Linked DNA regions of Homo sapiens. The protein of the gene in region 1 interacts with the protein of each later gene in a pairwise test. Each region holds a gene or a part of one and is shown on either strand. Other genes may lie near its edges.

The links. Proteins that work in one complex are often made in the same cells at the same time.
Region 2: the proteins of ASF1A (region 1) and NASP interact in binary tests that used the Homo sapiens proteins (3 or more experiments, as listed by UniProt).

What each region holds. Positions count from the first base shown.
Region 1 is NC_000006.12:118,906,798-118,909,713, forward strand, and holds the end of ASF1A (histone chaperone ASF1A), read left to right. Parts: intron 1-604; coding exon 605-817; 3' UTR 818-2,374; downstream 2,375-2,916. UniProt on the Homo sapiens protein: Histone chaperone that facilitates histone deposition and histone exchange and removal during nucleosome assembly and disassembly.
Region 2 is NC_000001.11:45,611,413-45,615,068, reverse strand, and holds part of NASP (nuclear autoantigenic sperm protein), read right to left. Parts: intron 1,901-3,656; coding exon 1,821-1,900; intron 974-1,820; coding exon 888-973; intron 777-887; coding exon 703-776; intron 57-702; coding exon 1-56. UniProt on the Homo sapiens protein: Component of the histone chaperone network. Binds and stabilizes histone H3-H4 not bound to chromatin to maintain a soluble reservoir and modulate degradation by chaperone-mediated autophagy.

The DNA of each region.
Region 1 (2,916 bases):
AACCATGCAAGAAAAATTACATGACAATAGAATAGAATGTTCTCATGTTCTTTCTGATAATAAGGCCGGACTATTTTTCACCCTTGTTGTACCTTCCATTGATCCAATTTGTTATCCCTGAAGCACCTTATATAGCACAAAAGAAACAGGACTGTTTCTAAGAATGAGCCATCTTTAAAAGGTGTAGGAAACCATTAATAATAAGTTGTATTTGACAATTTTTCATTTTCCTTTGAAAACATACCAATCTAAACAACATAGTAGCTTGTTAAATAAAGCATCTTCTGAAGCATTCATTTTCAAAAATGAGGAGATTCTTTCTTTTAGAAAACAGAAGTATAGGAGTTAAATAGTTAAAAAGCCAGATGAATCCCCTCAGATTCTCCGTATCTTGTTTCTGTTAATCTAAAATAACTTCTTTGCTACAGCCCTAGTCGTTACATCTTATTAGTTATATTTAAGGTACTTAACTTGAATTATACCTTTGTATATGAACTTAGCCCTTTAGGAGTACTAACATGAACCATTTTATTAAGCTTCTATTTGTATATGGTGATTTAACTTTCTTAGTGTTTACCATTTGTATGTTTCCTTTTTCCTCTAGCTTCAAAGGAATATTTTGGCATCTAATCCCAGGGTCACAAGATTCCACATTAATTGGGAAGATAACACAGAAAAACTGGAAGATGCAGAGAGCAGTAATCCAAATCTACAGTCACTTCTTTCAACAGATGCATTACCTTCAGCATCAAAGGGATGGTCCACATCAGAAAACTCACTAAATGTCATGTTAGAATCCCACATGGACTGCATGTGACCACCTACCATCCCTTTAGTACAAATTAAGCTATTAAAAATACACAGAACTATTTCCCTGAAATTCCGTAAGTACATAGTCAAAACACAATGTGAAGAATTTGTTTAAAAACATCCTGTAGAAAGTTTATAAGAAAACCAGTATTTGAACAAATTGTGGAATATAAATACAACTATTTTTAAGTAATTTTTTTCTCTAATGTGTTATTTTATTTGTTCTGAAACTAATCTGATTAAAGCATATATATTATTTTCTTCTCCTTTATATGTAATGAAAGCACTTATAAAGAAACAGGAATCATTAGACCAGGTTGTAAAGATGTCTTGGCCTCCCAGACAGTCTTTGGACCACTATTTTACTGGCCTTTGAAAGAACAAAGTTTACTTCAACTAAAATGTTTCTTCCTGTGAAGACATATGGTATCATTTTAATTTAAGGGGCAGATTTCCATTCTTTTTTGGCATGTCCTTAAAAAGAGGATTTGAAATCAACTATATGCTACCAAGAACTTTAGGATCCAATTTTCCAAGCCACCGTGAAGCCTCTTATGGCTACTATTATAGTTCATGAGATGTTGGACAGCATTTGGTTTGTTTGGTAAGAGAAGAACAAATATGGCTAATTGTTAATAAGGTCCCCTGGCTATGGTTTTTGTTCTTATAACAGAGTTTAGAATATCAGAGCATTTCTTGAATCATACATCATTATTGTCCAGTGAATTCAAGACCAAATACAATATCGGGAGAAAATACAAACTCCCTGTGTTTAAGAATAGGGGATTACAATGGCTCAAATTGGTTCATTTGATTTCTAAAAATACCATGACCTTTAAAAATTCTTTTAATAGATCATGTTATTGGCAGTATTTATATAAAAACCATGGATTTAGAAAGGTATATTTAGCTTTATTATAATAGATACGTTACTATTTTGGAAATATATATATTTTCACACCTGTAGTACTCTTCCCCATTTCCTCTGACACTCATGCAGAATGAGATCAGGCATATTTGTGGTTGACATACTCTAGATAGCTTTTCCAACAAATCTTTGAAAAGCAATCTTGGAAAGGAATTCATTAACTAAATGGGGTAAAAGGTTTCTTTTTCTTTGAGAGTTAAGTCCTTCCTCAAAAAATTTTCTTATGCTCCATAAAATTGAGGTAGAATATTTTCATTATTCTTGCAGCTAAGCAAGACAGCCATATGATGCAGGTTATGCAGTGCCTTCATATCTAAAACTTTTATACTGCACTTTTTAAAGCTTTTATGTTGAGGAAAGGAAAAGGGCATTTGTCTAAACATGGATTCTGAGTTGTATATATTTCCTATCATTCTAAAAAAGTGAATTTGTGAAGCAAAGTTTTGCCAGATGTTAAACTTTGAATTTAATATACCAGATTATTAAAATATTGTCCATTAACTAGTTCATAGATTTTAAAAGTAAAATACTTCTGACTGTTAAAACTATATAAAGAAAATCTCATTTGTCTAATTGCAATTAAAAGAAAAATGTTAAAATATTAAAATGAAAATAAAAGCATTACTTTCCAACAAAGAGCTCAGTGGTTAATATAATAGGAACAACATATGTGCTTATTAGAAATAAAGCATATACAGCCAAATCACCAAATAAAGCCATTTACTGCTGAGTTTTTATTCTGACTAATTATAACAATCTATTTGTAGTGACATCAAAGGGTTAGGTTTTTGTATCAAGTTGTAAATGGACAACCAATTTTCACTTAAGCTTGGGACATGCGAACCATTACCTTTTGTTATCTTAAATTTTATCACTCTAAGAATTTTTTTAATGACTGAAAATAGATTTAGACTTCAAACATTAGAAACGTAAGAAACTGTAGCACATAAGTTTTTTTTCCACCCGGTCTAGCGTCATTTGCCAATACTGTATCTGAAGAACTATTTTCCACCCTTTTGCTCATAGTAAATAGCTGTGTCCTAAGAATATAAACATGAACCAATGACTTATGCCACTAAGATGGAGGCATTAAGGGTATTATTTGGGCTGAGAAAACATTCCAGAGGTCTGAAGAAGTATGCATGCATTTATTTGCCCATTCATAACCTTATACAACT
Region 2 (3,656 bases), on another chromosome or scaffold:
CTGTTCCTGCAGGTTAAGGCAGGACTGGAACTCCTCCACAGCTTGCACATAGTTTTCTAACAAAGAGAAAAAGAAGAGCAAGTAAATGGACAGCATTCAACATAAAATACTTCCAGAATTCAGACCCATCCTATGGGAATGCACCCATATTTAACATTCCATTTTTGTTTATAGTTATTTCCAGGACCCTTGGCTATAAAGAAAGTCAAAATGACTTTTAAAAACCTACTGAGGCTGGGCGTGGTGGCTCACACCTGTAATCCCAGCACTTTGGGAGGCTGAGGCGGGCAGATCACAAGGTCAGGAGTTCAAGACCAGCCTGGCCAATATGGTGAAACCCCGTCTCTACTAAAAATACAAAAATTAACCGGGCGTGGTGGTGGGTGCCTGTAATCCCAGCTACTCGAGAGCCTGAGGCAGGAGAATCGCTTGAACCCGGGTGGCGGAGGTTGCAGTGAGCCGAGATTACGCCATTGCACTCCAGCCTAGGCGACACAGCAAGACCCCATCTCAAAAAAAACAAAACAAAACAAACCTACTGGAAGACTGAGTGCCACTTGGAAGAGACTGTTCATTGTTCCAGGGTCTACAGGGAACACAGACCTATCTTTTTAAAGATCAAGTTCGGTTCCAGAGAATCTATTAGAGGAAGAACGAGGGAGCTGAAGAGAGTAGGAGAGTATAAAATGGAAAATGCATTACCAGATTCAACACTAACTTCTCCGAGTTTAAGATGTGCCTGGGCAGCATAAAGCTGTGCTTCTTTTGTTTCTTGCCTAAAAGAAGGAAAATTGATCAAAAACCTTAACAGTACCTGTCTAACCCTAACTGGTTTCTATTTAACCACCAAACTCCCAACCCAAGCCTAGAAGCACCAAGAGTTTTACCTTTTAAAAATGATCTTTGCTAAATCCAGCATATCCCAGGCAAGCTCTAGGTTCCCAATCTCCTCCTCCTCATTTTCTTGAAGAGACTAAAGTATAACCAAATAATAAAAAGATAGGCATCTTTTTCAAATACAAATCTAAATGTATAACTTAGCGTAGCTTAAAAAAAGTTGATATACGATTCAAAATTTGGACTTTCTCCCTAAAATCTAGAGAATGGGTCCACATACTGTCTTAAGTCATGACCATGTCACTGATATTTTAACAGTGAAATGTTGGCTCACATACTAACACACAAGAACCCCAGGATCAAATATATCCACCCATCCTAGGCATGAATAAAGGGTCCCTAATCCATAATCAAGAGACAGTTATCTATAATAATCATGCCTAGGGCTGGGCATGGTGGGTTATGCCTATAATCCCAACACTTTGGGAGGCTGAGGCAGGAGAATAACTTGAAGCCAGGTTTGAGACCAGCCTGGGCAGCACAGCAAGACAGCCGTCTAAACAAAATAAAATTAGAGAACAAATTAGCCAGACATGGTGGCAGACATCTGGAGACCTAGCTATCTGAGAAGATGAGGCAGAAGGATTCCTTGAACCCAGGAGGCTAAAGATACAGTGAGCCCTGATCATGCCAGTGCACTCCGGCCTGGGCAGAGACAGAGATTCTATCTCTTAAAAAAATAATAATCGTGCCTAAACTAGGTAAGCTACAGTCCTGCAAACTAGCTGGGCATGTTGGCACAAGCCTGTAGTCCCAGCTACTTGAGAGGCTGAGGTGAGGCGATCACTTAAGCCCGGGTCTAGGCTGCAGTGAGCCATGATCATGATCACCCCACTGCAATCCAGCCTAGGCAACAAGAGTGAGCTCCAGTCTCCCAAAAACAGAAAAAGGCTGACAACAGTACTGAGTGGCTAACAACATACCTTGTTTTCAAGGACTGAATCATTTGGCATTTCTTCGGTCTTATCATTTTCTTTATCATCCTCTTCTGAGCCTTCAGTTTCTACAAGTAAAAATTCCTCAGTATTGAGAATATAACTAAGAACGTATTCTGACTAGTCAGAGATTCCAATACACGTCTCAACCTATATTCAGATAGGACAGGCCAGATGCTAATCCAAGTGAGTTAACACCTGAACTGAATATATCGTCAGTGGGTGCAGTCTAGTTCAAGTGTAACCTAGACTAAGAATGTGCAATCTTAGTCTATGGGTCAGACCTTCAGCAATTAAAAGGCTGAGTGTTTCTCTTATAAAAGTCAACCTGGACCATTCAGAATAAGAAACATTGGCTACTGCCTCTTATTCAATGGCTAGAAGCTCCCATTCATTCAGCCAGAAGCAGGTGGAGACCTCAGTCAGTGTTTCTGGTATCTTTAAGCCACTCATTAGATAATACTAATAGCCTGGGAAAGTACGAAAGTTAAATTATTCCAGTCCATTCTGATCAAGAATGCTCAAGAGACTAGCTTTCCCACAACAGAGATGTGGAGCAAAAAGCATAGTCCTTACCGACTTACACCAATGAGCATGCCACAGACTCCAGCCAGCTCTAGCACATACAGAATTTGAGTAAGGAATACTATAACCCCTATTTTACTCCTATACCTTTGCTAATGACACCTCTAAAATCTGCAGCCATATATCAACACCATATTTCACCATATTGAATACACTCACAAGTCAACCATCTAAAGGTCAGGCTCCTAATCAATAGCGCTACTGTGATTAGACAAATCAACAATGTTAAGTGATTAAAATAAGCTTTCTGTTAACACAAACAACTCATGAATTGGATATAATATGCCTCTCTCTGCCATCTTTCATTATGCATTTTTAACACCAGCAAAAAAGCTCAAACACTATCTCCAAACACTCTTACTATGGGAATATAAATATGGCAATTAGGACTTAGAGCAATCGTCAGGTCAAAGGAGTTTTATCAGCAGCAACCACAAAGAGATTCCGTTTTCAAAGAAGCTTAGAAAATACTTTAACAGGGTCAGGCGCGGTGACTCACGCCTGTAATCCCAGCTCTTTGGGAGGCCGAGGCGGGCGGATCACGAGGTCAGGAGATTGAGACCATCCTGGCGAACATGGTGAAACCCCGTCTCTACTAAAAAAAAAAACCAAAAAACAAAAAAATTAGCCAGGTGTGGTGGCAGGCGCATGTAGTCCCAGCTACTTGGGAGGCTGAGGCAGGAGCATGGCGTGAACCCAGGAGGTGGAGCTTGCAGTGAGCGGATTATCGCACCACTGCACTCCAGCCTGGGTGACAGAGCAAGACTCCGTCTCAAAAAAAAAAAAAAAAAAAAAAGATACTTTAACAAATTTACTGAGGACATCAGGGCATTGCCATTGATACCTGGGCACAAGTTGGGAAAGGTTTTAAAGTAATGGCAATGGCTGCCAGGCGCGGTGGCTCACACCTGTAATCCTAGCACTTTGGGAGGCCAAGGTGGGCAGATCACCAGGTCAGGAGATTGGGACCATCCTGGCTAACACGGTGAAACCCCGTCTCTACTAAAAATACAAAAAATTAGCCAGGCGTGGTGGCACATGCCTGTAGTCCCAGCTACTCGGGAGGCGGAGGCAGAACAATCACTTGAACCTAGGAGGCGGAGGTTGCAGTGAGCCTAGATCACGCCACTGCATTCCAGCCTGGGTGACAGAGCAAGACTCTGTCTCAAAAAAAAAAAAAAAAAAAAAAAAAAAAGTAATGGCGATGGCTTTCTCCTTAACCTAGCTCCCCACCATTCC